7 linked regions of the Homo sapiens genome follow. The protein of the gene in region 2 purifies or fractionates together with the protein of the main gene of each other region. This does not show direct contact. Each region holds a gene or a part of one and is shown on either strand. Other genes may lie near its edges. The genes, in order: KCTD9, NRP1, TMX1, FAM241A, ARK2N, PDGFB and NIPSNAP1.

What was found.
Region 1: the proteins of NRP1 (region 2) and KCTD9 purify together in Homo sapiens (co-immunoprecipitation; 3 studies listed by BioGRID and IntAct, with this or other methods). This does not show direct contact.
Region 3: the proteins of NRP1 (region 2) and TMX1 purify together in Homo sapiens (affinity purification with mass spectrometry; 3 studies listed by BioGRID and IntAct, with this or other methods). This does not show direct contact.
Region 4: the proteins of NRP1 (region 2) and FAM241A purify together in Homo sapiens (affinity purification with mass spectrometry; 3 studies listed by BioGRID and IntAct, with this or other methods). This does not show direct contact.
Region 5: the proteins of NRP1 (region 2) and ARK2N purify together in Homo sapiens (affinity purification with mass spectrometry; 2 studies listed by BioGRID and IntAct, with this or other methods). This does not show direct contact.
Region 6: the proteins of NRP1 (region 2) and PDGFB purify together in Homo sapiens (affinity purification with western blotting, with the first as the bait; 2 studies listed by BioGRID). This does not show direct contact.
Region 7: the proteins of NRP1 (region 2) and NIPSNAP1 purify together in Homo sapiens (affinity purification with mass spectrometry, with the first as the bait; one large-scale study listed by BioGRID). This does not show direct contact.

The regions. Positions count from the first base shown.
Region 1 is NC_000008.11:25,451,325-25,455,645, forward strand, and holds part of KCTD9 (BTB/POZ domain-containing protein KCTD9), read right to left. Parts: intron 2,252-4,321; exon of another isoform or gene 2,220-2,251; intron 1-2,219. UniProt on the Homo sapiens protein: Substrate-specific adapter of a BCR (BTB-CUL3-RBX1) E3 ubiquitin-protein ligase complex, which mediates the ubiquitination of target proteins, leading to their degradation by the proteasome.
Region 2 is NC_000010.11:33,187,532-33,191,852, forward strand, and holds part of NRP1 (neuropilin-1 isoform a precursor), read right to left. Parts: intron 1-4,321. UniProt on the Homo sapiens protein: Cell-surface receptor involved in the development of the cardiovascular system, in angiogenesis, in the formation of certain neuronal circuits and in organogenesis outside the nervous system. Mediates the chemorepulsant activity of semaphorins.
Region 3 is NC_000014.9:51,246,395-51,250,715, reverse strand, and holds part of TMX1 (thioredoxin-related transmembrane protein 1 precursor), read right to left. Parts: intron 3,625-4,321; coding exon 3,496-3,624; intron 1,391-3,495; coding exon 1,345-1,390; intron 1,249-1,344; coding exon 1,147-1,248; intron 1,024-1,146; coding exon 951-1,023; intron 1-950. UniProt on the Homo sapiens protein: Thiredoxin domain-containing protein that participates in various redox reactions through the reversible oxidation of its active center dithiol to a disulfide and catalyze dithiol-disulfide exchange reactions.
Region 4 is NC_000004.12:112,151,404-112,155,724, reverse strand, and holds part of FAM241A (uncharacterized protein FAM241A), read right to left. Parts: intron 1-4,321.
Region 5 is NC_000018.10:46,243,262-46,247,582, reverse strand, and holds part of ARK2N (protein ARK2N), read right to left. Parts: intron 1-4,321. UniProt on the Homo sapiens protein: AMPK substrate important for exercise capacity and skeletal muscle function.
Region 6 is NC_000022.11:39,231,015-39,235,335, forward strand, and holds part of PDGFB (platelet-derived growth factor subunit B isoform 1 preproprotein), read right to left. Parts: intron 2,511-4,321; coding exon 2,421-2,510; intron 814-2,420; coding exon 608-813; intron 1-607. UniProt on the Homo sapiens protein: Growth factor that plays an essential role in the regulation of embryonic development, cell proliferation, cell migration, survival and chemotaxis. Potent mitogen for cells of mesenchymal origin.
Region 7 is NC_000022.11:29,556,938-29,561,258, forward strand, and holds part of NIPSNAP1 (protein NipSnap homolog 1), read right to left. Parts: intron 4,266-4,321; coding exon 4,234-4,265; intron 3,892-4,233; coding exon 3,797-3,891; intron 2,017-3,796; coding exon 1,933-2,016; intron 1-1,932.

The sequences.
Region 1 (4,321 bases), on a different chromosome or scaffold from region 2:
TATATAACTCTTTTGAGAAAGAGGAGCAATAAAAATCTTGTATATCATGGACATAAGCTCCAGTTAGTATATACTAAGATTGTTTTTGTCCTCATACTGAGCCAAATAAATCATAAAATGATAGTGCTTACAAAGGTCATTTACTTTGTATGTGTTATCTCCACCATGTGGCCTGATGTTTCCATGTCACTGGGATTATCTACCTTAACAACTTAGGCCCTAAGAATAGAAGCATTTTACATTTATTGAGAAGCATGTCTATTAAAGTTCATGATGTCTGTATTATACTACTTTTCAGAGTCAATTATTTTTAAATTTCAGATCCCATGACAAGTGAAAGCTGCCTATGAGTTGGAGAGTAAATGGAACACCATGCCTAGTACGATTGGCTAGTTTTAATTTACCTTTAAACACCATTTTCAAATTGTAACCTGTATTATTTAAATTTAAAAATTAAAACCTGCACATGCATGTAAAATATTTTTTTCTTTTATACCCACAAGATTTATTACATAATACACAATAAATACACAAGTATTTGTGTATTTGAATTCAACTTTTATTGCCACTTTAATCAATCCTAATAAAGTATCAAAAACAATTTACCATATCACTAAATATTTTCTAATCTGGCTGTCTGCCTGGATCCTAAAGGTCCAATAAAAAAATTAATTTGCAAAAAGTTGTTATGATAAATACACAAGTATTTATTGTGCATTATGTAATATACAATACACATAAATTGTTGAATTTATGCAGGCTGATTTACCCAACAAAACCACTAATCACCACTAGTAACTAAATACAGAACTCAATTTTCTCTACCTATACTTTTAGTCAAATACATTTTAAATATTTACATGATCTTATTCTTTAAAAGATGAGATAATTTAAAAAAAAGATGAGATAATTAACTCTAAGGTGAAAAAAGAAAATTTTAAAATGGAAAATACTGGTAATATCAAGTGTTGGAGTGGATGTGGACCAATAGGGAAGATTTATGCAATGGTGGTGGGAATATAAATTACTGCAATGACTTTGAAAAACAATCTGGCATTATTTTGCAAAACTGAATATTTACATATTCTAACACCCAATAATTACAACTATGTGTCTATACCTTAGAGTGGTGGTTCTCAAATGTGTGATCCTGTCACCTGCAGCATCTGAACCACATTTCACCTGCAAATTAAAAATGTACATTCCTACCCCACCCCAGACCTACTGAATATTAATCTTTGGGGATGAAGTCCAGCAGTTTTCTCAAGTCCTCCTCCTCCTCCAAGTGACTCTGATGCATGCTAAAGTTTGATTAACTACCTCCCTAGAAAAATGCTTGCTGCTGTGTGCCAGGATACATATACAGAAATATTCATGACAGCACTGTCAATTTAACAACAAAATATAAAGAAAATAAACAACCTAATGTCCACTGACAGGAATATCATGGTAGTATTTGTATAACATGTACTTTAATAAAGCAGTAAAAATGAATAAATTATCACTATGTCAGATATTATGGTTGGAAGAGAATTATATTGAACGAAAAAAGCAAGGACTGGCCTGGCATGATGGCTCATGCCTGTAGTCGCAGCACCTTGGGAGACTGAGGAAGGAGGACTGCTTGAGGCCAGGAGTTTGAGACCAGTCTGGGCAATATAGGAAGACATTGTCTCCACAAAAAACTATATACAGTATAATATCAATTTGAGATACCGTATGTCCCGAAGCTGATTTTTTAAAAATGTAACTTAGTGGCTAGGCAGAGTGGCTCACGCCTGTAATCCCAGTACTTTGGGCGGCTGAGGCGGGCAGATCAGGAGGTCAGCCGAGACCAGCCTGACCAACATGGTGAAACCCCATCTCTACTAAAAATACAAAAATTAGCTGGGAGTGGTGGCACGTGCCTGTAATTCCAGCTACTCAGGAGGCTGAGGCAGGAGAATCGCTTGAACCCAGGAGGCAGAGGTTGCAGTGAGCCAAGATCGCGCCACTGCACTCTAGCCTGGGTGACAGTGCGAGACTCTGTCTCAAAAAAAAAAAGGTGAGGGCCGGGCACGGTGGCTCAAGCCTGTAATTCCAGCACTTTGGGAGGCTGAGGCTGGCGGATCACGAAGTCAGGAGTTTGAGACCAGCCTGGCCAATATGGTGAAACCCTGTCTCTACTAAAAACACAAAAATAGCCAGGTATGGTGGCGGGCGCCTGTAATCCCACCTACTTGGGAGGCTGAGGCAGGAGAATTGCTTGAACCCGGGAGGCGGAGGTTGTATTGAGCCAGAGATCATGCCACTGCACTCCAACCTGGGCGACAGAGTGAGACTCCGACTCAAAAAAAAAAAAAAAAGGTAATTTAGTTATGCATATATATGTGACAAAACTATTTAAAAACACACGGCAAAGAGAAAAACAAAACAGGAGTACAGGAACGTGGATAAACACATTATGTTATTGATAACATGCTACTTCTTGGGTTATCTGGCAGATTTACAGATGTTTGCTATATTATGTTCCTCTTTTTATGTATATTCTTTATTGTATTCTTTTCTATGTATCAAATATATTAAGAAATGTTCAAGCTTAAAAAGTGGGCCCTCACTAGGTTCTTATTAATGTTTAGCCTTCAGAGGCAGAGGTTCAGATAAATTTTCACCTTTCTCCAACTCTAACAACGTAATGGATTCAAACCTGGATACTTACTACTAACAACATATTTCTTTTTCATTCTTTGTTGTTGTTGTTGTTTTAGAGATGGGATCTCACTATGTTGCCCAGGCTGGTCTTGAACTCCTGAACTCAAGCAATCCTCCCATCTCAGCCTCTCAAAGTGCTGGGATTACAGGCATGAGCCATTGTGCCTGCCCCCAACATGTTTCTGACCTAATACCAAAACCTGAAGAAAAGTTATTTCTTGGACCAAGAATGAAAACACGGTACAGAATGAAAGTATTTCCTACCCTGTTTGCCATGTTTGGCATGATGCCACATACTCAGAAGGCATTTACTAAGTGTTCACTGAATGAATGAATGAATGAATGATGAATTAATCAGTATACAAAAGGCCTAGGACTTGCACAGCTCATTATTGAATATTCTGAAGTAAAAAAAGCACTCTGTGTTCAAGACGTATAGAAACTCTGCACTGACATTAAGTTGCTCAGAAGCCACACACTGCATGCAGATGTGCAAGTCCCCATTTCAATTTCCTTAATGCCAACTCTTACAGGGAATATTAAAAAGAATAACGAAAATGTTGAGGCACATGGAAAAAGGATGACAGGTACAAACAACATAACTGACTCTTTCGGAGCAGTTTTAAAAAACAAAAACAAAAAAAACCCTCAAAATTTAAACCAAAGATTCCAGTGATTAGAACTAAGGCCTTCAAATGTTTCTGACCACACACCCCATTGGTAACATACTTTTGGGCATGTACTCAAACATCTGTATATTTATGTATTTATGAACTACATTCCACTGTTAGAAAGTACATGTTTTCCCAAATGATGAGGACTTTCAGTGACTCAGACTATGAATTAGCCACTAAGAATCTCCTAAATATTTATCATTAAATTTAGTGAAATTCTGCCAAATACAGGATTGACTTTAAACATTAAAATAAGCCGGGCATGGTGGCTCACGCCTGTAATCCTAGCACTTTGGGAAGCCAAGGCAGGTGGATCACATGAGGTCAAGAGTTCAGGATCAGCCTGGCCAACATGGTGAAAACCGTCTCTACTAAAAATACAAAAATTAGCAGGGCATGGTGGCAAGCCCCTGTAATCCCAGCTAAGCAAGAGGCTGAGTTAGGAGAATCGCTTGAACCTGGGGGGCAGAGGTTGCAGTGAGCTGAGATCACGCCACTTCACTCCAGCCTGGGTGGAAGAGCAAAACTCCGTCTCAAAAAATAATAATAATAAATAATAAATAAATAAATAAAAGTAAAAAACAAACAAAAACCAAAAAATCAGAAAAGAAAAAAATCTGAAGCCATTTGTCTTCATGCACTAGAACTTATTTCTAAATATCTTGCTAACTAGGATGACTCATCCTATCAATGGCTAATATTTCAAAGAATAACATACACTTAGGGAGAGGCTGATTATTAATAGCAATTAATAAATAGGACTTCAAATATTCTTCTTTAAAACTCAGCACTGTTTCAACTTCTCAGGTCCAAAGAGACCCACTCTTTTTTTAGTCTCATGGTTTATACATACTAGGAGAAGTGGCAGCTTCTGCCATTTCCTCATTGTTTACTTGTGCTTGCATAATTAATATTGTCTCAAGCTGCAGTTTCTTTGAAGTAATCCTTTAAGATCA
Region 2 (4,321 bases):
TAGAACGTGCCATTTTGGCAACTTAGACACTTGCTGAACTGCGAGGACTTTCTCTTGGCTTCGCTTTTAATGACCCCCACTGGGAACATTTCCTCCTGCCACCACCTGGTCAACACAGCTCATGTTTCACTGTTGGCTCTGCAAATAGAAATCATCTTCTCTAACACCTCACCTGATTAAGTGTGAATCTGCTGCTCGGGCCTCAGTGGGCAGCAAGAGGTTGTGTTTGTTGCCCAAGAGACTTGTGTGTTTGCAAGGTGCTTTCTCACTGTGCACACGTGGGCACATACTCCTTTCCGCTTGCCTGTGTCAACAGTGTCCAGGTGGATGTGGACGTGTTCATGGGCAGCTTCCTTTCCTTACCTGGTTGCTTATGTGAGAGCCCGCCCTTCTTCAAACCAACGGGTGGAATCATAAAGGAAGGGTGTTCACAAATGGCAGCTCTAGCAGTAGGTTTGATACTGCAGGATGAATGTCCCTCTCGCTCTCTGACCTTGCAGGTGTCCTCTGTGACTGAGCTGATCCATTCACACTTAGGATTTGTTTTGCCCACTAATTTATCAAGATGTGATTACTTGTCTGTGGGATGGTGCCATTTCACTGTGATGAATCCACCACGATGGGAAAAAAATACACCCATCGTGCCTCTGTCCCCTCAATCTTACGGAAAAAAGACTGAAATTGGCAATGCTGCTGCCATGTCTTAATCCCACTTATTGAGCTCATTGCTCAAAGTTTATTGAGGCTAGTCAGAGAATGGGTGTTAGAAAGAAGGAGAGAAGTGGACGTAGGTAGAGGGATGCTCTCCCATAGGACATCCTCACTCAACTGCACCATAATCACTTCCCATCCACAACTAGACAGTAAGTTCCTCAAGCACAGAGACCCCCTCCTTCATACCTGTATTTCCAGTGCCCAACACAGCACCTGCCATGTAACAGGGCTTCTCAAATGATGCCTGTTCAGTGCAGTAGGAGAGATGCCAGATTTCAAGAATCCTCTGCCTGAGGAAGTTCTTATGGTCCCTGCCTTCTCACACTGTGGTCTTTAAATATGCTCGTGTGGCCGGGCGCGGTGGTCCACGCCTGTAATCCCAGCACTTTGGGAAGCCGAGGTGGCTGAATCACCTGAGGTCAGGAGTCCGAGACCAGCCTGGCCAACATGACAAAACCATGTCTCTACCAAAAATACAAAAATTAGCCGGGCGTGGTGGCGGGCATCTGTAGTAGCTCCTACATAGCTGTAGTCCTAAGTAGCTGGGACTACAGCTACTTAGGAGGCTGAGACAGGAGAATCGCTTGAACCTGGGAGGTGGAGGATGCAGTGAGCCAAGATCACACCACTGCACTCCAACCTAGGCAACAGAGACCCTGTCTTAAATATATATATATATATATATATATATAAATTAAAACTGCTCGTGTTGCTCCTCTGCTTAGAATTCTTCAGAGGCTGCTCACTGCCTGCAGCCTATCCACACTTCTTCACAAAGAGGGAGCGCTGGCAGCCCCTCCAATGGACCTTTTATCCACCCCCATCCTGTTTTCCTCCTGGTCACTGCATCACCAACTTAAGGTATAGTATAAAGAACCAGCAGTGTCCTGCCAAACACACACACACACACACTCACTCACAATAAACACCCGATCCACAAACTTCTGCTCTACTCAGTGAAAATGGAAGGAATCCAATTTCATCAATTTCCTTGTCAATCTCATTAGGCAAGGAGGTAGTTCCCAAAGTCATGCACACTCTGCCTCTATCTAACTGCTTCCCATACAAAAACCTGTGCAAAGCACACCAAACATGAGCCAGTAAAATAAGCCTAGCTCAGCCGGTGTCTGAGACAGGGCTGCTTTCCTTGACCCCTCTTCCGTCATCTTTTACATGGTCCATTGTCACTGGCCTCTGCCATTGGAAGCCCTCACTGAACTGCACTGTGGTTGCTTCCCAACCATGATCAGACTGCGAGTTCCTCAAGCGTAGGGACCTCTTCCTTTACACGTGTATTTCCAGTGCCCAAGTCAGCATCTGCCCTGTAACAGAGCTTCTCAAATACCACTTGTTCACTGAACCAGGGAGAGATGCCAGACTTCAGGAATCCTCTGAAAGGAGGTACCTAGTTCCATTCTTTGAGGTCAAATGCAGAAAACCAAGCAAATGGGATGCCTTTCGATAAGCAGCAGGATATTTTACCTAGCTAGTGTTCATTTTCTTTTTAAACAACCCAATGTCTGGCTTGCAAAGTTTCACCAAATAATATTATAAAAAAAGCACCATCTACTCTCTAATGTCAGTCTATGCGCGGGAGCTTCGTGAAGGGCTCTTTTCATCTGGATCTTTTTCCCGTTAACAAGTAGTTCCTGCCTTTCAGATGTCGGGCTCACCCATCTCTCTACACAAATGATTGTGTTTCTAGAACTGCAGGGGCTCTTTCTAGTCGGAGCTGACCTGGCACAACTGCCAAGTAAATCTGGGTGGCTGAGAGAACAAAAGAGTCAAACCCTTCTGAAGGAATCGCACTTCTCAGCTGTTAATCTACGACAAGCTCTCCTTCTCTGATACTCTAACACATAAAGCACTGATATTTTCCCTTTCAAGGGTTTTATCACAGTTCTGGGTCAGGAACTCTGTCTTCATTTTCTCAATTAGCACTTTACTTCTGCAAGCCTTTTAGCTTTTGTCTCTGGCTAACATAGCTTTTAACCTCCTTTGAATGTCAGATCCTACTGAGCCATTTTGCTTCACTTTGCATCAATTTTTCCACCATTACTGCCTTCATTTTGGCTAATTGCATTTAGTTAATTTGATGCCATTTATATGTACAGTGCCATTTACAGTCAAAGTATTTTAAGTTTTCTAAAACTGCCTGTCTTAAGATTCAATTGAAAGTGTCTCAGATTTGAAGGAGTCCAATTTTATCCAATTTCCTTGTCATTCTCATTAGGCAAGGAGGTGGCTGTGGTGGAAGGAGGCCTATTCAACCTATTTAATGGTTATATTCACTGGGAGAAAAGTGAACCACAAAATGGGAAAGGCATGAAGTACCCTTGGCCCAGCCTTCAGTCCACTGACTCACTCACCCAAAGAGCCAAGATGGGGAGAATTTAATGAGATTTCCTAGCATCAGCAAATGCCCCCCTGGGGTACCTTTTGGGAAGCCACTACTTGAGCAAGCAGTGCTCTGTAAGTATTTCTGAGTGGGTGCAGAAGTTCATGGATTGGGCGTTTGTTGTGAGTGTGTATATGTGTGTGTGTGTATGTGTGTGTGTGTGCATGTGTGTTGGGCCAGACATGGCTGGTTATTTCTTTATTTTTAATTTTTATTTTTTTCTCTTTAGAGACAGGTTCTAATTCTGTCACCCAGGCTGGAGTGCAATGGTGTGATCATAGGTCACTGCAGCCTTGAACTCCTAGGCTCAAAGGATCCTAAAACAGACTCTGAGTAGCTGGGACTACAAGTGTGCGCCCTTATGCCTGGCTGATTTTAAAAAAAAAATTTATTTTGTAGTGTCAGTATCTTGCTATGTTGCCCAGGCTGGTCTCTAACTCTCTAACTCAACTGATTCTCCTGTTCTGGCCTCCCAAAGTGCTGGGATTACAGGTGTGAGCCACCACGTCCAGTCTGCTGGTCCTTTATACTGTACTTCAAGTTGGGCAGTGAAATGACTAGGTGGGTAGCAGGAAGGGGGCAGATAATAGAGTTCACTGGAGAAGCTGCCAGCTTTTTCTGTCCCCCAACCCATTCCTCCCCCACCAATTAATCTTAGGAAGAAAGTAAGGCAGGAGGTGGTGGGAGGGTTGTGATCTAGGGCATGGTGAGGTTTCTACCTGCTCAAAGGAAATACACTACACTTTCAATCTTTCCCCAGTGAATAAGAATTCCACACCGTCTTTCCCCACCTCCCCTTCAAGGGTCGGGAGAGAGCAAGCATTGTGAATTGTTTCTTTAGTTGTAAAATAAACGAGGGGACATAATATATGCTTGGACTTGTTTGAAAATAATTCAGAGTCAGGGATGACAGACATAAATTAAGTTTCCTATGATCTGATAATTGTTGAAGCAGGGTCGTGCACATAGAGAATTCATTCTACTATTTCTTTTCCATTTGTGAATATGTTTGAAATTGCCCAAAATAAGAAGTTCAGAAAAAGTATAAGATGAGGCTAGTTGCGGTGCCTCACACCTATAATCCCAGCACTTTGGGAAGCTGAGGTGGGTGGATCACAAGGTCAGGAGTTCGAGACCAGCCCGGCCAATGTGGTGAAATCCCGTCTCTACTAAAAATACAAAAAATTAGCTGGGTGTGGTGGTGTATGC
Region 3 (4,321 bases), on a different chromosome or scaffold from region 2:
ATCGAGACCATCCTGGCTAACACAGTGAAACCCCGTCTCTACTAAAAACACAAAAAATTAGCCGGGCGTGGTGGTGGGCACCTGTAGTCCCAGCTACTCGGCAGGGCAAGGCAGGAGAATAGCATGAACCCGGAAGGCAGAGGTTGCAGTGAGCCAAGATCGCGCCACTGCACTCCAGCCTGGGCAACAGAGCGAGACTCCGTCTCAAAAACAAACAAACAAACAAACAAACAAAAGACATAATAAATGAAGGAATATCAGGCCACAAGTCTGATTTAGTTAAAATCAGCTTTGTCACTTCTGTGTGACTGTGAACCTTAGTCTCCTCAAGTACAAAATGGGAGCAGTAACACCTATGCACTCTACTACAGAGGTGCTGAAGAGCAAACGAGGTAACAGATAAGTAAAAGTTCTTTAAGAACTGCAAATATAAATGCTTCCATTAACAGTACAATTACAAGATTGGTAAATGCTTGTAATTATTTAAATTGTTCTGTAGTACAGTTCAGTGTCAGTGGCATCCTAAATCAACTATAGGGATTGCTTTTCCCAATATCCTACCAGAAAAAACTTACAGTTGGCTGGCATTCAAAGAATAATCTTCAAATGTGGCGGCCGGTATACTAATGAAAGACTTCAAGAGTAGAATATACTCCACTTATAAAACGACACCAAATAAATATTATTAAATAGCTACATGCTATATGCAATGTTAAAATTCCCCATAATATAAGAGTCAAGAAAATAACAATGTTCCAAAATCCACTGGGCTACATTCTTATATGAAATATACATCTCCTCTACCTTCCTTTATGCCATAGCTGATAAAGACCAACAATCCACAGTTAGAATTCTAAGCTGGAAGAGCAACCTGTGAAATGTGTGATTGTGATTACAGAAATGAATAGGACTATCGTGAATAAAAAATAAACATTTTAAAATATACTTACTTGAAGGGTATGGGTACGGCTGTGGTCTGCGCCTTTTTGAAGGACAAAGGCAATCTGCCACAAATATCATACACTGTAAAAATAAACATTGTAAGAAATCTGAATGTAGAATATATGCCACAGCTAATGTAACTATTTTAAATAATCACATTTTTAAATATCTTTCTTCCTAGCACTCCAAAAATGAAATACTTACGAGTCCTAATAACAGTCCGGAAAACAGAGTTGCTAAAGCAAAAACAGTATATGATCCCCACACTGGCAATCCAAGGTCTTCAATAAAGTAGTTATGGCAAGTCTAAAATCAAAAGAAAAAAAAAAACTAAAAATCTGTTCATTTTTGTTAAAGTGATAGTGGTAAAAATGTTTAAGATAAAAATATTTTAGTCCATACCCTGATCCACATAGATAGCTGAAAGAGTGCTGACATACTACTCATCCTAAAAATAAAAGAGATGATTAAAAAACTGAGTAACATACACAGATTTGTCTATACATACTATTTTCTACTCTATAATTTCCCCAATATGACAGATTTTATTGCTGTTAATCAAGACTAGTGACACATCACTGATTTCATGCCTGTAATAAGCCTTCTTCATGAAAACTGTTTCTAAATTGACACTACCATGTGACAGCCTCATAAATAAAAATACTTGACAGTATTTTTTTCCTTTTCTCCCACTGTTTTGATGTTAATATTTTGTATTTCATCTGATGATTTCTCCAATACACTGAGTAAAGGGTTACAAGTTCCATGAAACCAGTTGGAAAAGGCAACTCTTACTCACCCTTAAAAGCCTTCAAAGCAAGACCAAAGGGAGGCTAAAGTAAGGACTGGAAACAATTGTCAAGCCAATTCTTTCCATTTAAGAACTATCCCTCTTTTTTATTGAAATTAATTAAAATTTACAAGAGCATTAGTTTGACATCTTTTAATGATATACAAAATTATTACATAGGAAATAAATGCTAAGTCATCATATAAGCAAAAATTAGTATTTTACATAATTAAATGGCCAGTTTTAAAAAGGCATGTTTCAGAAATAAGAAAGGTCTGTGAGTTCCCAATTGTAGCTGCTTGAAAATAGACTTACAAGCAACTACTTTCTTCTACTGGAAGGACAAGATTCATTTATGAGATGAGATTTCAGAGAACAAAAATCAGTTATACTTTTAGTTCGACACAGAAAGGTATTTTAATCATGTTGCTTCTGTTGTTTAAAAGCCAAGTGAGAAGAGAAACAAGGAACTGAAACATAAAGCACTGTATAGCCTCACTGTAGTCTGCAGTAATTTATTTCAGAAACAGTAGGATCCAAAATTGAGTTGGGCATGGTAGTTCAATGGGTGAGTGTTAACAGGGCTAATCTTTCTCCCATCCCCAGAATCTAGAGCATTTTTCTCTTATGTGATTACTGTCCCAACTCCCTATCCTCCAAAGGTAAGTGTGGTGAGAGGACAGGAAGAGACAGATGGCCACACAGGATCAGTCCATGGTGACCTCAGCAAAACTCACTGTTCCCAGAGGTCTCTCACATGACCAGTGAGGCCTTGTACTCCAACAGCAAAGCAGAAAGCATGCTTGCTACTTCCAATCCTTATCACTCCATAGCCAGTTGCTACGAGGAAATTCATCTACCCTCTAGATATCTATAAAGCTCAGTGCTTAGGCACACTATTACGGTCACCGTTTATACACACTATTCATATAAGAAGTTATCAGACAGGTGGAATAACCAACCAAACATAATTCAGTCGCTTGACATCAAGAGTTGAAGTTTATGTAATTAATTTAGTTGGTATCGGCAATTATTGACGGTCTCTATGGAGACAGAACATTAAAAGACAAATTGAAGTCTGGAGGTAGCATGAGTACAAGTTTGAGCCTACTCATTCAAATTATTACACTCGAGTGATAGCTTTACCCATTACACTGTGAAGACTCTTAGGGGCATTTAGTTTTTGATGATACATATGACCAAATCTAGCAAGCTAAAATATTCCTGAAAAGGTGTACAACTTACTTCTATAAAATGCCTTCTCTAACTCAAGAAGCATGAAAATATGTTTGACTTAGAAGGTCAAACTAAAAAGATCAAACATGTAGGCCGTGCATAGTGGCTCACACCTGTAATCCCAGCACTCTGGGAGGCCGAGGTGGGCAAATCACGAGGTCAGGAGATCAAGACCATCCTGGCTAACACAGTGAAACCCCGTCTCTACTAAAAATACAAAAAAATTAGCCACGTGTGGCGGTGGGCACCTGTAGTCCCAGCTACTCGGGAGGCTGAGGCAGGAGAATGGCGTGAACCCAGGAGGCAGAGCTTGCAGTGAGCCGAGATTGCGCCACTGCACTCCAGCCTGGGCGACAGAGCAAGACTCCATCTCAAAAAAAAAAAAAAAAAAAAAATCAAACATGTAATAAATGTGGATATACCTTAACAGCTCAAGAAACAAACTGAGTATGAATGCTTTACATAAAATATAATTATCTGTTCCAATTAATTATGAAATGGGTAAGAGAAAAAGCCCTCATACTTACAGAACAGAACCTGGACCAAACCATGATGAAACGGGCTCAATACTCTTCCACTCTTTATCACTTATAAAGTTTATGAAGTCCTTCTTAGTCCTTGGACCCTGATAGCGCCTAAATTCACCATCTTTACAACTAAAGAGAATCAGAATTAAATATTATCCAGCACTGAGAAATAATTTAATATTTATTTTGCTATTTTTTCACTTCACTTTACAGTCAATTCTAACATTCAAAAGCATTAGCAATGTACAAGTATTAATAGCAAATTATACTATTTACCTACTCATGACATTTTAGCCCCCAATTTAACAATGAGGTTACATTTTTTTAAATCATAAGCCTTAAAATGTAATTACTGTTATTCTTCCAAGTAATGAAACTATGAAATACAGTAAGTAGATAAATCTCAGGAAAGTACTTTTAAGCCTTATGTGTAATACACATATTAAAAGAATTATATAAAAATTATTAGAATAGTGCTTGGCACATAGTAATTATTAGCTGTTAAGCTATAACTTAAAATTTTAAGGCATTTTTCTAGTACTTTTGGCTATAATAGCATCACCTCAGACACCCTGCTTTAAATCACTGGAGGCATCTGGTATGGTGCTTCCCTTCCTCTCATTTCAGTGACTATTTAGTGAGCTTTGCAGCCTTCCTTAGATCCACCTCCTCCTTCCCATTCCCAATGTAGAAAGTTCTGTCAGAGTCACAAATGTTCTCTTGGCTCCAACATCTTTAAGTGCAAAAACTCATCAGCTCCCTACTAGGGACCTGTTAAGTAGGGTTAAGGGACCCTTTATCCACTCAGAGGTAAAAACCACGAGGA
Region 4 (4,321 bases), on a different chromosome or scaffold from region 2:
AATCATTCCTAATTGTTTTAATTTGCATTTCTTTTCTTTATAGTGAGGCTGGACATATTTTTCTATTTATTGGACTCTACATGAAGTTGCAGTTTTCATTTCCTACAAAACGTTAAAAAATGATATAAATTAAATGTAAAAATGTACTACCTATATAAGGCTTCATCTAATAATAGCATTATATTATATTATATAATTTATAACTTATCATTATAACTTGTTTGTCACTTATCAGTAAATGAAAAATTATAGCATTGTTTTATACTTACCTCCCACTAAACTACATAGACCCAATAAAAGAAAAAAGATTTTTTTGAGGGGATGGATAAAAACAATGAGAATATCAACTAGAACTTAGTCTTTGAAATGATTATAAACAGAAAAATACCAAAATTTGCATTCATTTTTCATTTTAACTACCGGGCTTCAATATTTTTAAAATTATAAGTCATAATTGCAGACACACAAATGAAACCACCAGGTAGTCAAAAAGATACACTCAATTTCAGTAATATCTAACAGACGTATTGGAACAGCTGCCTATTGTAGAGAAAGAAATGGTTATGCAATGGAAAAATAATTAAATAAGAGAAGGGCTTTTCATGAACTAATGATATATAACTGTGGGCCACGAACTCAAGAATATGCCTAACTCAAGCCTCTTTTTTTGTGGCGGGGGAGGGTGGTGGGCGCAGACGGAGTTTTGCTCTGTCGCCCAGGCTGGAGTGCAGTTTGCGATCTTGGCTCACTGCAACCTCTGCCTCCTGGGTTCAAGCGATTCTTCTACCTCAGCCTCCTGAGTAGCTGGGATTACAGGTATTCCCCACCATACCCGGCTGATTTTTGTATCTTTTTGGAGAGGCGGGGTTTCGCCATGTTGGCCAGGCTGGTCTCGAACTCCTGGCCTCAGGTGACCCGCCCACCTCAGCCTCCCAAAGTGCTGGGATTACAGGCATGACCCACCACACCCTGCTCAAGCCTCTTTCTGATTTCAAACTGCAGGTTAAGACATTTCTACATTTTATACTTTTTCAAGAATCTACTTTTTTAAAAAAAAATATGAAATCTCTGGTGACATTACTTAGTACCTTGCATATGCAGGACAATATGCTAGATGCTACTACAAGATGGGTAAACTTATCCATTAAAAGTAGCCAGGCTGGGCACGGTGGCTCATGCCTGTAATCCCAGCACTTCGGAAGGCCAAGGCAGGGAAATTGCTTGAGGCCAGAAGTTCATAACCAGCCTGGGCAACACGGCAAAACTCCATCTCTACTAAAAATACAAAAATTAGCCAGGCATGGTAGTATGCACCTGTAGTCCCAGGAACTCGGTAGCCTGAGGCACAAGAATTGCTTGAACCTGGGAAGTGGAGGTTGCAGTGAGCTGAGATCCTACCATTGCACTCCTGCTTGGGCAACAAAGGACTCTGTCTCAAAAATAAAAAAATAAGAAATAAATTTTAAAAAATAAAGTATCAAACTTAGGGGAAAAAAGTAGTCAAAATCAAATATCTCTCCTGAAAAATGACTTTCCTTCTCAATTCTCAATTTGTGGCAGTGAAAATTTCGCTTCTGCTGTTATTACCTCTAAAACTCATGGAATAAGAAATCCTCAATTCAGTCAGACTGATGGAATTTGCAATCATGCAACATCAAACTTAAATTCCCTACCTCTGTAGGCCATCTGCAGACATTCAAGTAAAATTTAATTAAGAGGATACAAAACAAAAATTAAATTATTTTGGATTAATTGGAAGAGGAAATAAAAGAAATTCTCAAACACAGATATTTAAAAAGTTACATGAAAATAAATACTGTAAAAACCACAATGGGAATTTAACTTTCTTAACATTATGTTTAGATATTAAGTATTAATGATAATTTTATCCTTTATTTTCCATAAAGTTAAAAACATTTGTACCATGCTTTCCTTTTGATTAGAACTCTGATAAGCTGCAGTTGTTGCCCTAAGAAAACAGCAAGAAATAAAGCCAATCACTTCCTCTTCCTATGCCAAGATAAGACTCAGCTGCCAATGAAGTTAAATGGCTGGGGGCGGTGCCGGGGGAAACACTGGGTATGGGGAAAAAGATCAGAAGATAGAAAGTATCTTCTGCATCAGGTTGGTTAGAAACTCGGTTTATCTGCTCAAAAGAAGCTACATTTCAAATGTCTTATTAATTCTCTCAAACACACATAAACACAATGAAATAAAACATAACTAGTAGGAACAAGGTTTTCGGAGATAGGTGGCTGTTACTGGAAGATAAGATTATGACTCCAGAAAAGACAGAAAATGAAGACAGTGTTGCTAAGTCTTAAAGAACACATGAATAGAGACACAGAATTTCTACATATTTCTGTTACAGCAAGACTGATGTCATGGTACTTTGAGTTTTTCCTTTTAATCTTGCCTTATCACTTCTTTTGAATAGGAAACTGAGAATAGTTTGTACAGAGGAGGTGGGTATTTTTCCTCTCAAGGATTAGTGAGCAACAAGGGGGAAAAGAAACCAACTAGAGATCTACATAAAAAACAACATAATTTAGGTTGACAGGTTTAATTTTTTCTTTAGAGATTGTCTATTCTAAACATTAGATACATTGTTTCACAATCTTAACACTTTGTTCAATAAATATTCTATAAATTTGAGAATTACATGTACTAAAAACACAGTTCTATGATGTGTTAGTTGAGGGAAATAAGGGGAGGAAAACCAGAGAAAAAGAAGAAAAATAGAAAAGGTGAGGGAGAAATAAGGAGCAAATATTTATTGAGTGCCTCCATGTGTTAGGCATTTTACATACAAAATGAGACTGAATCCTCATAAAAACTTTAAGAGGTGGGTAGCATCATACCCATTACAAATGAGGAAATTGAATCTCTGACGGATTAAGTAATCAGGATCACGGGGGCTAATAAAGAGTAAAACCGGGATTCAAAATTAGATCTGTCATACTTCAACCCCCTTTTCATTGTTTCATAATGCTCAGCTTCTGCACTGAAGTGGAAGAGGTAGGGGAAGATGTATGCAGAAGAAGAGAAAGTGGTTGAGATGCGTGGGGAGGGAAAAAACACATGAGAGAACGAGACTCAACAGAGACAGAAAGGAGATGGGTGGTAGGAAAGAAAGGCAGAAAAGGAATGTGTGAGAAAGCAAAATACAGCAAGTTGCATACGAGGAGCTGCTAGAAGAGACACAGAGAAAAGTTTGAAATTCTGTTTAAAATACAGGTTTCAAGCAAATAAACAATTTTAACCTATCTATTGGAATATCTATTATCAGAGTAATTACTTTTGACAACTCAAAGGACTGTAACCCTTACATATTTTGAATATTGTTTCTCAACTTTGGCACTATTGAAATTTTGTGCCAGATAATACTTCGCTGTAGGGGACTATGGCATTATACGATGTTTACCAGCATTCCTGGCCTTTTCCTATTAGATGTCAGTACCACCTCCTTAGTTTCAGCAATAAAAAAATGTCCAGACATTGTCAAATGCCCCCTATGGACAAAAGGCCCCCAGTTGAGAACCACTGATTTAGAAGTTCCAGTCTGGATGATTTAAAAAAATGAACAAAAGATGCCTATCAAATGCAAAATTATTCCCTGAGTTACTCTAGTGACTGGATGTCCTTAGGAACAAGATGAGATTAAGTTAGGGCAGAATTCAACTAAGCTCATAGCACTTATTACAATATTGCTTGCAAACTGCTTTTAAAATACGTGAAAGGAAGTGAGTATAAACTAATATTTAGTTTTGAACTACACCATCTAAAGTAGGGCAGAAAATTTGTCAGACTGTTTTTCCATCATGTAATGTGCTTTTTGTATTTGTGAAACAAACAAACAAACAAAAAACACTAGCTTTGGTGTTCGGAAACCTGGGTTCTAGTCTGCTCTAGCATGAGTTAGCTGTAGGACCTACAGCAAATAACGTGGCCTAGGGAACAACTATTGGCTTCTCATATTTTACCAAGAGTTTAAATATACACTTCTAAGAAAATAGTTAAACAACTTCATATGTATATATTACTGATACTATGTTGAAGGGCAAGTGTGGTGAATACAGTATATTGACTTGCTTATTCTCCATTCCCTTGCCAAAATGTGGTCCATGGGCACAGCATCAGCATCACTTAGGAGTTTGTAGAGATGCAAAATCTCAGACCTCACTCCAAACCAACTGAATCAAAATCTGCATTTAATAAGAGATGATTCCTATGCACACTGAAGTTGAGGAATACTTGTGTCAGTTTCCATTGCTATAAAAAAATCAGACACAGACAATATAGCACTGGATAATTTATAAAG
Region 5 (4,321 bases), on a different chromosome or scaffold from region 2:
ATAAATGAAATTAATTAAACCAAATTAAAAAGGCAGAGTGTAGACAGGCAGGATCACTATAACCAAACTCTTCCTCCTTGATCACTCAATGCTTTTAAACAATGGTAATTAAGAAAATACAACAAGAATATGATGGAATTAGTTAATTCTTAGTATCTCTTTGCTCGGTTCCTATAACCATCGTTCTAATTTATAATTCTACCCTCTCTAGCAGGAATGTTTTGTGAAATATCTGTCATCAATATTTCTGAATAACCAGTCTTCACTGACTAGGACCCTGCCATCCTCACCTTACTACCTCCAATAGCCTTATTCCAGAGCTAGAAATGTCATCACTTTATTTTTTATGAAACGAAAAGTTACTATGCTACTTTTGTTAATTTTATACTGTCTTTTAAAAAAAAAACAAGGTACCATCACCAATATTTCAGATTCTTCTAACTTTATTCATTCATTATGGATCTAGAAACTAGTAATATTCCTTCCACATTGTTAGATAATCCAAACAATTCTGGTAGTGCAATTTTTGCCATAAAAATTGCAATCCAAACCTGCTGGTATTTAACATGGTTACAAAACCCAGATGATATGCTAAAACTGGTCACTTTAAATTGGGGTCTGCTATTTTTTTTTTTTTTTTTGAAATGGAGTTTTGCTCTTGTTGCTCAGGCTGGAGTGCAAAGATGTGATCTCAGCTCACTGCAACCTCCACCTCCCGGGTTCAAGCGATTCTCCCACCTCAGCCTCCTGAGTAGGTGGGATTACAGGCATGCACCACCACGCCAGGCTAATTTTGTATTTTAGTAGAGACGGGGTTTGGCCATGTTGGTAAGGCTGGTCTCGAACTCCTGACCTCAGGTAATCTACCCGCCTCGGCCTCCCAAAGTGCTGGGATTACAGGTGTGAGCCTCCGCGCCTAGCCTAGGGTCTGCTCTTATCTGTAATGCTTGGTCAATATACTAGTGCAAGATAAGAGGCATGAGAAAGTGATGGGGGTGCTAAATACAGACTGCCTCGTGAATGTTAACAACTCCTAGACTAATAGTGTGAGACATTTGCCAAATTTCCTGTCAGAGCCTTAGATAAATTGTGCCACACAGAAAACAAATCAGCTAGGACCCACACCAAGGCAATGAGATGCCGTGCTCTACAAGAGACACCAAAGGCATTCTGGGATGCCTCTGCCTCTTCCTTCTTCTATTTCAGAGCCAGGACCATTAGTCCTTTTCTGTCACTGTAACCCTCTTCAGCATCCCACACATTCCTTTGGGAGCTCCAGTATAGAACCTGACATTCTCTGGCCTTTGGGCCTTTTCTGCTCTGCCCCTCCCCACCCCGCCTCACCCCCCATGGAGGACTTCACAGGATTCCAATGGCAGAACAGTGCCTAAAGCATACAGAAAAGTGAGCCAAAGATGCTATGAGGTTCTTCAAATACTGTCAGTGGTAGTAATCTTTTCCAGTTCTAAGACAAGAACAAGCCCTGTAGAGAAAAATGTAAATACCGCAATTACCATATATTAAACTGAAAATAAAGCAGAGCACTTATATTTAGCTATTGTGACAGCTGGCTGTCTCTGTGTAGGTCTCTGCCTGTGTAGGTCTTTGGAAAGATAACTTCTTTCACTATATGAGAAAATTCTAAATTTTGTCCTCCCACTACAGACCTTTTCAACAAGAAAGGGTAAGAAAAAGTTACCAAGAAAAGGTAGTTATCAAAATAGGGTAAGAAAAAGAAGCACAGAAAAAGTAGTAACTAAATTATCATGGAAAACAGTTTCTTTCTGTCTTTAAAGGAAATAATCCAGCTACTTTTTAAACTGTAAATCCACTGGGTAAGAACTAGGCCTGAGCTTTGCAACACACTGAAGAGAAAGTAATACTACATACTGTATGACAGTCGCATGCTAGGCATAAAAAAAATAAAAAAATAAGTCACTACTCATTTAGCTTTAAAAACAGCAAATTACTACTTTTAGTTCTTTTTTTCTTTCTTTTTTTTTTTTTTTATTGAGACAGAGTCTCACTCTGTCACCCAGGCTGGAGAGAGGTGGTGCAATCTCGGCTCACTGCAACCTCCACCTGCCGGGATCAAGCAATTCTCCTGCCTCAGCCTCCCAAGTAGCTGCGACTACAGGAGCCCACGCCACCGTGCCCAGCTAATTTTTGTATTTTTTTTAGTATAGATGGGGTTTCACCATATTGGACAGGCTGGTCTCGAACTCCTGACCTCGTGATCTGCCCACCTCGGACTCCCAAAATGCCAGGATTATAGGCGTGAGCCACAGCACCCAGCCTACTTTTAGTTCCTTAAACAGCACGTTAAACAACCTTAAAAAGTGAAGGAAGAGGGCTGGACATGGTAGCTCACGCCTGAAATTCCAGCACTTTGAGATGCAGAAGTGGGCAGATTACTTGAGATCAGGAGGGCAAGACCAGCCTGGCCATCATGGTGAAACCCCATCTCTACTAAAAATATAAAAAAATTAACGGGGCGTGGTGACGGGTACCTGTAATCCCAGCTACTGGATAGGCTGAGGCAGGAGAATCACTTGAACGAGGAGGCAGATGCTGCAATGAGCGGAGACTGCCACCGCATCCAGCCTGAGCGACAGAGCTGGAATCCATCTCCAACAACAACAACAAAAAAGAGTGAAGGAAGAGCTCAAAAATCTAAAATCTGGCTGGGTGTGGTGGCTCATGCCTGTAATCTTAGCACTTCGGGAGGCCAAGACAGGCGGATCACTGGAGGTCAGGAATTCGAGACCAGTCTGGCCAACATGGTAAACCCTGTCTCTACTAAAAATACAAAAATTAGCCAGGCGCAGTGGCACACACCTGTAATCCCAGCTACTTGTGAGGCTGAGGCACGAAAATTACTTGAACCCGGGAGGCAGAGGTTGCAGTGAGCCCAGAATGTGCCATTGTACTCCAGCCTGGGTGACTGGAGACTCCCTCTTAAAAAAAAAAAAAAAAAAAAATCTAAACTCTTACCATCAATTTGATGCAGATAAACATGAAGAACATGACCATACTTCATCTCCTTCACTATACTGATTCTGAAACATGGCCATTCTGGTCTAATTATTAAAAACCCTACACTAGGAACAGGAAACCCAGGATTCATTTCTCTGTACTGCCACCATGTTAGGGACAAATCAAGATTACCATCCCTATTGTAAGGATGGGGAAAATGCTCAGAACCTACCTTCTTGACAAGAAGGCTGATGGAAAAGATAAGGTATTTAAAGTTTTAACTTCCCAGGGAAAAAAATCCTAAATAAGTTCAGTTTACCACAGCTATAAGCCTTCCTCACCAAGACTTCTGCTTCTTCTTGCCCCAACTACATTTGTTTGCAGTGAGCCCTTACTAGCAACAAAAATGAAGCCATTTTCAGATATATTAATACAGTTTCCTAAACATGCTGGATACAAGAGTTACCTGAGGCTATTATTAAAAAGAGATTCCCAGAAACCATTTCAGATTTATTGACAGAATCATCAGGAGAAACCTAGGAGTGTGAATATTTATAAACACACTGGGTAATTTCTACGCTCTGGCAAAATTTAAGAAGTACTTGTAGCAAGAGCAACTCGTTGCAGTGCAAGAGAGTAATTAGAAATCCAGTGACTGAGCCACTAATCACTTCCTTACTCAGTCTACTTCAGCATATTAACATAATGCTGGTTAGCATTTCTGAGGGCCTACTATGTGCTGTCCTCCGTAGTAAACACACTGTATTTCACTTAGTGGTAACAATAACCTTTTGGAGTAGATACTATAAAGGTTGTGCCCCAGTTTTGTAGATAGGGAAAACTGAGGCTTTATATAATTTACCTGAGGACATGCAGTTTCTAAGTGGCCACTGGTTCAAAATCACCCACTACAGTGTTCAATTCCAGCATCAACTTAAAAAAAGCAAACACATGGCAAGAATTGAAATGGAAAATTCAGGTCTTTTGTTGATCAGTAGCTTCTCTAATTTCGACTTACTTTTTAATCCCTGCATGTGGTTCAAGTCTTTTGCCTAGGTTAAAACTAAAACTAAATATATATTTTGGATGCAAGATAATCATCTAATTGCTTGGAAAAAGGCAACCTACTCTATCTTTAGTGCGTACCTATGTGATCCTAAATGGGATGGGGCTGTGGACCTGGGTTGAGATGCTGCTGTTGATTAAAGTGAACCCCTGAATAGTCTGCTCAATAACTAGGCTTGCTATTTTGTTGTGAAAGGGAAAGACAGGACCCAGATTAACCATTAAAATTTTAACTTACACTCACACCATAAGAATGACCATCTGACTAATAGTCCAAGCC
Region 6 (4,321 bases), on a different chromosome or scaffold from region 2:
TATCCCCCGTCCCTCCGAAGAAAAGCAGGATCAGCATTCCACTGTTGTCAGGGGACCTGCCCCAGCTCCGCAGTGTCTATCACCTGGTGGGCCTCTCTGCACTCTCTTTATTAAAGACACAGCTTGTCAAAGAGAGACAAGCAGGTGTCAAAGATGCAGGGCCACCCATCTGAGCCTTTCTCAAGACAGCCCTGAATAGGGAGAGCTTTGGGGGAACCTGAGTAGCTCCCCAAAACATTCTGAGTGTCAGATAAATGTTTGCGGATACGGCTCTTCAAGGGACGTTTTGCGATTTTGTCCTTGTAAAGGAGGTGACATCCCTACTTCACGTTGGCTCCACACCTCGCCCAGCCCGGGGGGTCTGTCTGTGGCTTTTGGCTACAGTGGCCTGAGCCACCTCAGAGGACTCATGGTCGGCCTCAGTCCACCTGCCTAGGAAGAGCTTCCCAAGAGTGGGCCTCTCTGGACAGAGCCCAGGAACAAATCAGGAATGTCCTTCGACACACCACTCTGCCCAGTCAAGGAAGCCTGGTCAGGTATGAGCCCCAGAAGGGTGGTCTCCACCCACCACCGGGACCAGCCTCGGGGGGCCGCGGAGCCTACGCACCTGGACAGGTCGCAGCTGCACCTGGGTGGGGCGGCACTGCACGTTGCGGTTGTTGCAGCAGCCGGAGCAGCGCTGCACCTCCACACAGGGCGGCCACACCAGGAAGTTGGCGTTGGTGCGGTCTATGAGGCGCCGGGAGATCTCGAACACCTCGGTGCGCGTCTTGCACTCGGCGATCATGGCCGGCTCAGCAATGGTCAGGGAACCTGGGAGGAGACGAAACCTGGGTCAGGAGCGTAGGCCTGTCCAGAGTCCCCCCACTTGGCAGGGGAGCTCAGCGGGTGCCTCCGGGACTGCTCTTTCTCACGCCCTTCAACCCCAGGGTTCAGGTTTCAAGTCCTGGCTGTCATTAGCCATGGGACTTGGGCAGATGGCTGAGCCACTCTAAGCCTGTGTTTCCCCATCTGAAAATGGGACCATGAGATCTACACCCAAGAACCACTGTAGTTTCAAGTGAGAAAATTCAGAGTGTGGGGCATGTTGTAAATGCTTAGTAAATGTCCGCTTCCCTCTGCTGGCACATGACTATTTTATTCTTCTTTATGATTTTACACATTTATGGGCTTGCCCAACATGTGGTTTTTATGCAGGTACCATATTAGCTCGAAACCACGCGTGCACTGCTGTCTCACGGTGCCTTGGATTCCTGCATCACTGCTGCTTTCAAAGCCTCAGCTTCCTCCTCTATGAAATGGGATAATAACAGCACCTCCCTCCCATGTGGATCTAAGGTGTAAAGTGAGTAAGCCTTGCCTACAGCAAGCACTGAGGTTACCGATGCTATCCATGTACAGAGGACAGGAGGCTCTGAGAGCTGAATATCCCGTCCGCCCACATTCATAGATTGGGGGTGGAACTCAGGCCACCTGACTTTTTTCTTTTTTTTTGAGACGGAGTCTTGCTCTGTCGCCAGGCTGGAGTGCAGTGGCGTGGTCTCGGCTAACTGCAACCTCCGCCTCCCTGGTTCAAGCAATTCTCCTGCCTCAGCCTCCCAAGTAGCATGGACTACAGGAACCTGCCACCACGCCCAGCTAATTTTTGTATTTTTAATAGAGACAGGGTTTCACCATGTCGGTCAGGATGATCTCCATCTCTTGACCTCGTGATCTGCCTGCCTCAGCCTCCCAAAGTGCTAGGATTACAGGCGTGAGCCACCATGCCCGGCCCAGGCCACCTGACTCTTATTCATCGTTCCCCCAGCCTCTAACTGCAGTGTTTTGGGGACTCCAGGTGTCAAAGAGGAGGAGGGGTTTGAGTGGACATTTGCCTCACCTGGGAGGGTTTCTCTGGGACCTAATGATCTACGGTCTCCTTTAGGTCTCTGCAAGGGAGCAGGAGGAAGTTCCAGGCTTTGCTCGAGGTCTACCAGCCTAGGCCGCGGCCCTTTGCCACAGGAGATACCCATAGCCCATCAGGGACCACGCTGGGTTCAAGTGAGGGGAGCAGGTTGGGATCTCAGCCCTACCGCTCCCTAGCAGTGTGACCTCGCCTAGTTCTTTACCCTCTCTGGGCCCCAGTTTCCAACTCTGTGAAATGGGGTTAATAATATCTACCTCCAGGATTGAAATAAGGAACGAATGAGCTTTGCAGCACTATATTTAGAAACCAGAGAGTGTGGGGGCGAGGGGCTGTGATGACTGAACACAGGCATTTAAGGATGGTTTTACTCTCTCAGTTCGCTCAGTCCTGAATGTGGGGGGAACGGGAGTTGTAAGAGGACCCTCGGGGCCCTCCGACTGGCTGCCCGCCCCCGTTCTCTTTCCCTGGCCCCCATGCTAATTTGAAGGACCCTTGTTGGGTGTCTCAGTCTTACCCAGGCTCCTTCTTCCACGAGCCAAGCTCTCCAGCTCGCCTCCAGAGTGGGAGCGGGTCATGTTCAGGTCCAACTCGGCCCCATCTTCCTCTGCAGGAGAAGTCACAGTCAGACACCAGGCGGCCCCACCTTGGGCAGGGGCTCCCTCCGCCGGGGTGTCTGGGCAGGCGGGAGGTTTGCCTCTCCCCCACTCCAGAGAACAGTCCCTCCTTCCAGCCCCCATAAATGCACGGGTCCTGGCCCTGAGCAGGGACCCTCCAAGCAGCCCCCAGGACAGCTGCAGGCCCAGGATCCTGACTGCATCCCTGGCTCTTTAGCCAACATTTTTGGCCAGAACCCATGTCAGTGGAGTTAAAAATAACCCTTCCCCTTTGCTACTGTAAGTGAACCCTCCTCGGCCTCCAGGGCGGGGCCGGGACCTAGGGCACTGAAGGCCAGTTTCCAGTGCCCCTCCACCCAGCGTTCCCATAGGAAGTGCTGAATGGAGAAATTCCCAGAAGCCCCAGGGGGACCGCATGCCCTGAACACAGCCCCTCTGGAGCCCCGGACAATGGCCGCGCTGGGCAGGCGGGAGCCACGGAGGGAGGGAGGGAGGGAGAGGGATGGGGGTGGGAGCTGAAGACAGAGAAGAGGAGAAGAGGGGTGGGAGTTGGGCCTGCTGGGGGTGGGGAGTCCCTGCCACACACCCTTCTAGGGCCTGGTCTCTCTAGCTCCGGGGCCCTCACACCGTATCTGTATCTGTGTCTGTCTCCCTCCCCTTCTCTAAACTGTTGCCCCACCTCTGCCCCCAGCCGTCTGTTGATTCCTCTGGTCACAAATGACAGCTCCCTTTTCTAGCCTGGGCACCATCTCAGTCCCATCAGCCCTCCTTGGAGACATCGGTCCTTTCCAGAGCCCATGGCCAGAGGTTGGCTGCTGGGAAGTGAGGGCTGAGGGAGGCCTCTGAGCTGGATGTTAAGGCGTGGACAGACCCTTCTGTCTCTCTCATGGGTGAGGAGCCACAAATAAACTAAGGGGCATTGGGAACACGCTCCTGCCACCTCCACACAGCACCCCATGGCTCCAGTTCTGGCACCGACCCACTGGCCCCATCCAAGACAAAGGCGCCTGCCGCCTGTCCGTCCCGGGTACTGCAGGGAGTCTGATGACTAGTCCGCTTCCGTCCAGCCTGACAGCCCCTACGTCAACGAGCCTATCTGTCCCTCTGGCTCCTTTCCTTTCTCCCTGCCATCTCTGGAATGTCCCTGGTGGGGAGGAGATGGGGAAAAGATGCGCTTTGTGGAAAGGTTAAGTTGATTAGGAAAAAATAGCCACATGGTTGCCTTGAAACAGGCCTGCTATTGAAACCTCATCTCCAAGATCCCGACCCCCACCAGGGGTGTGGAGGGGCCGTCTGAGGGTGGGGGTGTAAAGGCTTGGAAAGAAATGGTAGAAAGGCTAAATTTGGAAGTTGCCCCATTGTGTGTGGCCAGGGGCGGCCAGTCGGGCATAGGGTGGGGGTTGTGGGAGACATCGGGTGGGGGCCCTGGCGAACAATAGGTGGGCCCAGCTGGGGCCCCCTCCTGCCTGCCTCACCGCCCCCCAGCACAGGCGGGATTGAAAGGGCCCGGGAATGCTTTTGAGAGGGAGCCAGGGGCCCAACGGGGAGAGGAAACAAAGGCAGGAAATGCTGTTCCCCCGTAGATAGCGTCTGGGCAAGGATTACAAAGTGACAAAGAGACAGAACCCCAGAGGGAAGGGGACCTGGGGGTGCAGGGGGGCTGCTGACCAGGGCTCCAGGGAACAGGCCAGAGGTTAGAATAGAATGGAATTTGCTCTGAAGACAGCGTTTATAAATACATTGTCAATCCAGCCCGCCAGCCCCGCCACGTGTGTGCCACCGAGCACGTGCCCATTCGCTG
Region 7 (4,321 bases), on a different chromosome or scaffold from region 2:
AGGGTTTCTCCATGTTGGTCAGGCTGGTCTTGAACTCCTGACCTCAGGTGATCTGCCCACCTCAGCCTCCCAAAGTGCTGGGATGACAGGCGTGAGCCACTGCGCCCAGCCGAGATTTGTCATTCTTAACAAGCTCCCAGGGGATGCCAATACTGTCAGTTGGGACCACACTTGATTTTTTTTGTTTTTTGTTTTTTTTGAGACAGGGTCTCACTCTGTCTTCCAGGCTGGAGTGCAGTGGCAGGTTCTCGGCTCAATGCAACCTCCGCCTCCTGGGTTCAAGTGATTCTTGTGCCTCAGCCTCCCGAGTAGCTGGGATTACAGGCTTGAGTTACCATGCCTGGCTAATTTTTTTTATTTTTAGTAGAGACGAGGTTTCACCATGTTGCCGAGACTGGTCTCCAACTCCTGGCCTCAATTGATCCACATACCTCAACTTCATAGTGCTGGGATTACAGGTGTAAGCCACTGTGCTTGTCTTGTTTTTTATTATTTTTATTTTTTATTTTTGAGATAGGGTCTCACTGTTGCCCAGGCTGGAGTGCAATGGCACAATCATGGCTCCCTGCAGCCTCAAACTCCTGGGATCAAGTGATCCTCCCACCTCAGCCTTCCAAGTAGCTGGGACTACAGATGGGAAACACCACGTCCTGCTAATTTTTAAAAAATGTTTTGTAGAGATGGGGTCTCCCTATGTTGCCCAGGCTGGTCTTAAACTACTGACCTCAAGTGATCCTCTTGCCTTGGCCTCCCAAAGTACTAGGATTTCAGTTGTGAGCCACCATACCCAGCTGGGACCACACTGAATAGCAAGGCTCCTGCTAACTCCTTCAGCAGACACATTCTCCCTCATACCACCTGGTAAGTGATCACTGTAAACTTCTCAATGGCAAGGACAGGCTCTTGTTCATTTATGTGCCCCTCAACCACCTACCTACCACAGTTCCCGGCACACAGTGAGGGCTTAATTAACACCCACTGACTCTAGGTGGTTTCAGGTTCCTAGCAAAGTGGCAAACACCTTGAGCAAAAAACTTGTTCAAGGCTGGGCACAGTAGCTCATGCCTATGATCCCAGCACTTTGGAAGGCTGAGGTGGGAGGACTGCTTGAGCCCAGGAGTTTGAGACCTGCCTGGGTGACATAGTAAGACTGCATCTCTACAAAAACAAAAACCTTATTCAAAAACATTTCCTGCATGCTTCCTTTGTGACAGACACTGGAGAAAGCACTTTTCATAAATGAGTTTGTGGGCCAGATGTGGTGGCTCATGCCTGTAATCACAGCACTTTGGGAGGCCGAGGCAGGCGGATCACCTGAGGTCAGGAGTTCGAGACCAGCTTGGCCAACATGATAAAACCCCGTCTCTACTAAAAATACAAAATTAGCTGGACATGGTGACACACGCCTGTAATCCCAGCTACTCGGGAGGCTGAGGCAGGAGAATGGCTTGAACCTGGGAGGCGGAGGCTACAGTGAGCCAAGATCATGCCACTGCACTCCACCCTGGGTGACAGAGTGAGACTGTGTCTCAAAAATAAATAAAATAAAATAAAATATAAAATAATAAAATAGTTTGTAGAATCTTCCGTTATAGCCCTCTGACAGAAGCACTATCACCATCACTATCTTACAGACGAGGGAACAGCCTCAGCGAGGTAAAGAACCGTGCCCAAGGTCACAATGGGCGTTTGCTAATCCACATCTCCTAGGCAGAGGCGTGGCCCTGGCTATGTTATCATCCCCTAGAGTACTCACCTAGGCCTGCTGGTATCCTATGGAGTGTGCCACTTGGATAGAAACCCATTAACTCATTGTCTTAAAAGTGAGTTCCCCATCACTGGAGGTAATCAAGAAAGACTAGATCTCCTTGCAGAGAGGATTCCATCCTCAGACAGGGTTCTCAGCAGAAGACCTCCAAAGGCTTCACTCACCTGTATAGTAGACATTTTCATCCCAGCCTCTCTTCCTCCAGGCAGCGTTTCGAGTCTCCTCCCGAGACTGCAGGTCTTTATAGGCTGTGAGAAAGGCACAGGCTCATTCCTCAGGCACAGAGGACTGGATCCCTTACCCAGCACAGGGCCCTCTTCCCACTGTCCCCTAAACCCTGCACTGCTGTCTCCTCCTCCCTAGATGCCTCCCTCAGACTATTAGCAAACACTGTCTGCTTTAATCATCCATCCAATCAGTACATATGTTAATATTGCCTACATTTATATTTCTAGTCGCAAACACTCCCAAGGGCTCCAGACTCCTATATCCATCTACTGCCTACTTGACATCTCTACTTTGGTGTGTCAGCATTTTTAGTGTTAACACTTCCGGCTAGGTGCGGTGGCTCATGCCTATAATCCCAGCACTTTGGGAGGCCGAGGCTGGTGGACTGCTTGAGGCCAGGAGTTCGAGGCCAGTCTGGCCAACATAGCGAAACTCTGTACTAAAAATAGAAAAATTAGTTGGGCATGGTACTGCATGCCTGTAATCCCAGCTACTCAGGAGCGTGAGGCACGAGAATCACTTGAACTTGGGAAGCGGAGGTTGCAGTGAGCTGAGATCACACTACTGCACTCCAGCCTAGGTGACAGAGCAAGACTGTGTCTCAAAGAAAAAAAAAAAAAGTAACAATTCCAAGGGCCAAAATTACGCTCCTGACCCCACTGACTTGCTCCTTCCCTAGACCTCCCAGACTCAGGAGATGACACACAGCAGCTCAAGCACGAGCCTGGGAGCTCTTCTGGAATGCCCTTCTCCTTCTCTTGCCCCACACAGACAATTCATCCACAAGTCCTGTTGGTTCCACCTCTAGACTAACAAATCTTCTGTGGACTTCTCAGCATCCCACTGCCCCATCCCCTCCTGCCTGAACTAGAGTAATGGCTTCCTGAAGCCCTGCTTTCTCTCTTGCTCGCCTACCAAGCACTCTTAACAAAGCAGACAGCAGCCAGAGAAATCATACTAGAACAAAAATCAGGTCGTGTCACTGCTATTTGAAACAAATAGTCTCTCATTGCATTTACAATAAATCCCAACTCATTCCCCCTCTCCTGTTCCATCTCCCCACATTCTTCCCTACTCACTCCACACTGGCCTCCTTGCCACACCTCAAAACCCCGAAGGCCTTTCCCCACCACAGGGCCTTTGCATGTGCTGCTCTGTCTACTTGGAATGCTTTTGCCTAGCAATTCACAGCTGGCTCCTTCTCATCCTTTAGCTCTCAGCTTACATTTTACTTCCTCAGAGAGGCATTATTTGTCTACCTAGACCAATGTAGATCCCCTATGTTTTTCACCATCATCTCTCCCTGCCTTTTTTTTTTTTCTTCTTTTTTTTTGAGACGGAGTCTCGCTCTGTTGCCAGGCTGGAGTGCAATGGCGTGATCTCAGCTCACTGCAACCTCCACCTCCCGGGTTCAACTGATTCTCCTGCCTCATCCTCCCGAGTATCTGGGACTACAGGCATGCGCCACCACGCCCAGCTAATTTTTGTATTTTTAGTAGAGATGGGGTTTCACCATATTGGCCAGGATGGTCTCGATCTCTTGACCTTGTGATTTGCCCACCTCGGCCTCCCAAAGTGTCGTGATTATACACTTGAGCCACCGCTCCCAGACTCCTTGCCTATTTTCTATAAATATTATTTGTAATCTGAAATTGATCTTTTTGTGACTTTACATCTAAGATAGTGTCTCCTGCTAGAACATTAAGTTCTATGAGGACACTAATACAACCCCATTGGCTACAGAGAGTGATGACAGAGAAAGAGAACTAACAAAAGGCTCCTGGAAGGTCCTCAACCTACCCCAGAGATGGTGCACCACGTAGAGCTCTCCTATCTGTGAGAAGAAGCCGCCCACTGCCTCCTGGTTCTCCTGCCGGTACTTGATGGCCCGAGCCCTGGAGAAGGCACAATAATATGGGGCAGAAGCCAGGGCTGGTGCAGAGGGTACTGAGGCTGATTCCTTGGCCACACTTCACAGGAGGGGCCTAGGTGGAACCCACGGTCCTCCGGGATGCTGAGAGAAAGGACTGATGGCGGGGTGTTCTACCAACGGAGGGGTCACAACCTTCTAGGAGATCCTCACCTCCTGGCTGGATCCTTCTCCCAGATCCATGAGGGGCAGAAGGTAAAGAGTTCCCTGTGATATGGCCCTGGAAAAGGTGGCCCACCAGGGGCCTTGGTGGGGCAGGTGAGCAGGGTACGCCTCCCCCAACCCCAGTCTTGGTGCTGCCACTTACCAGTTGTTCCCCCACTCGATCATGGTTCCTGGCTGAAAGAGAACCAAAGGGATGATGGGAATGAGCCCCCACCTCAGATTCATAGCAT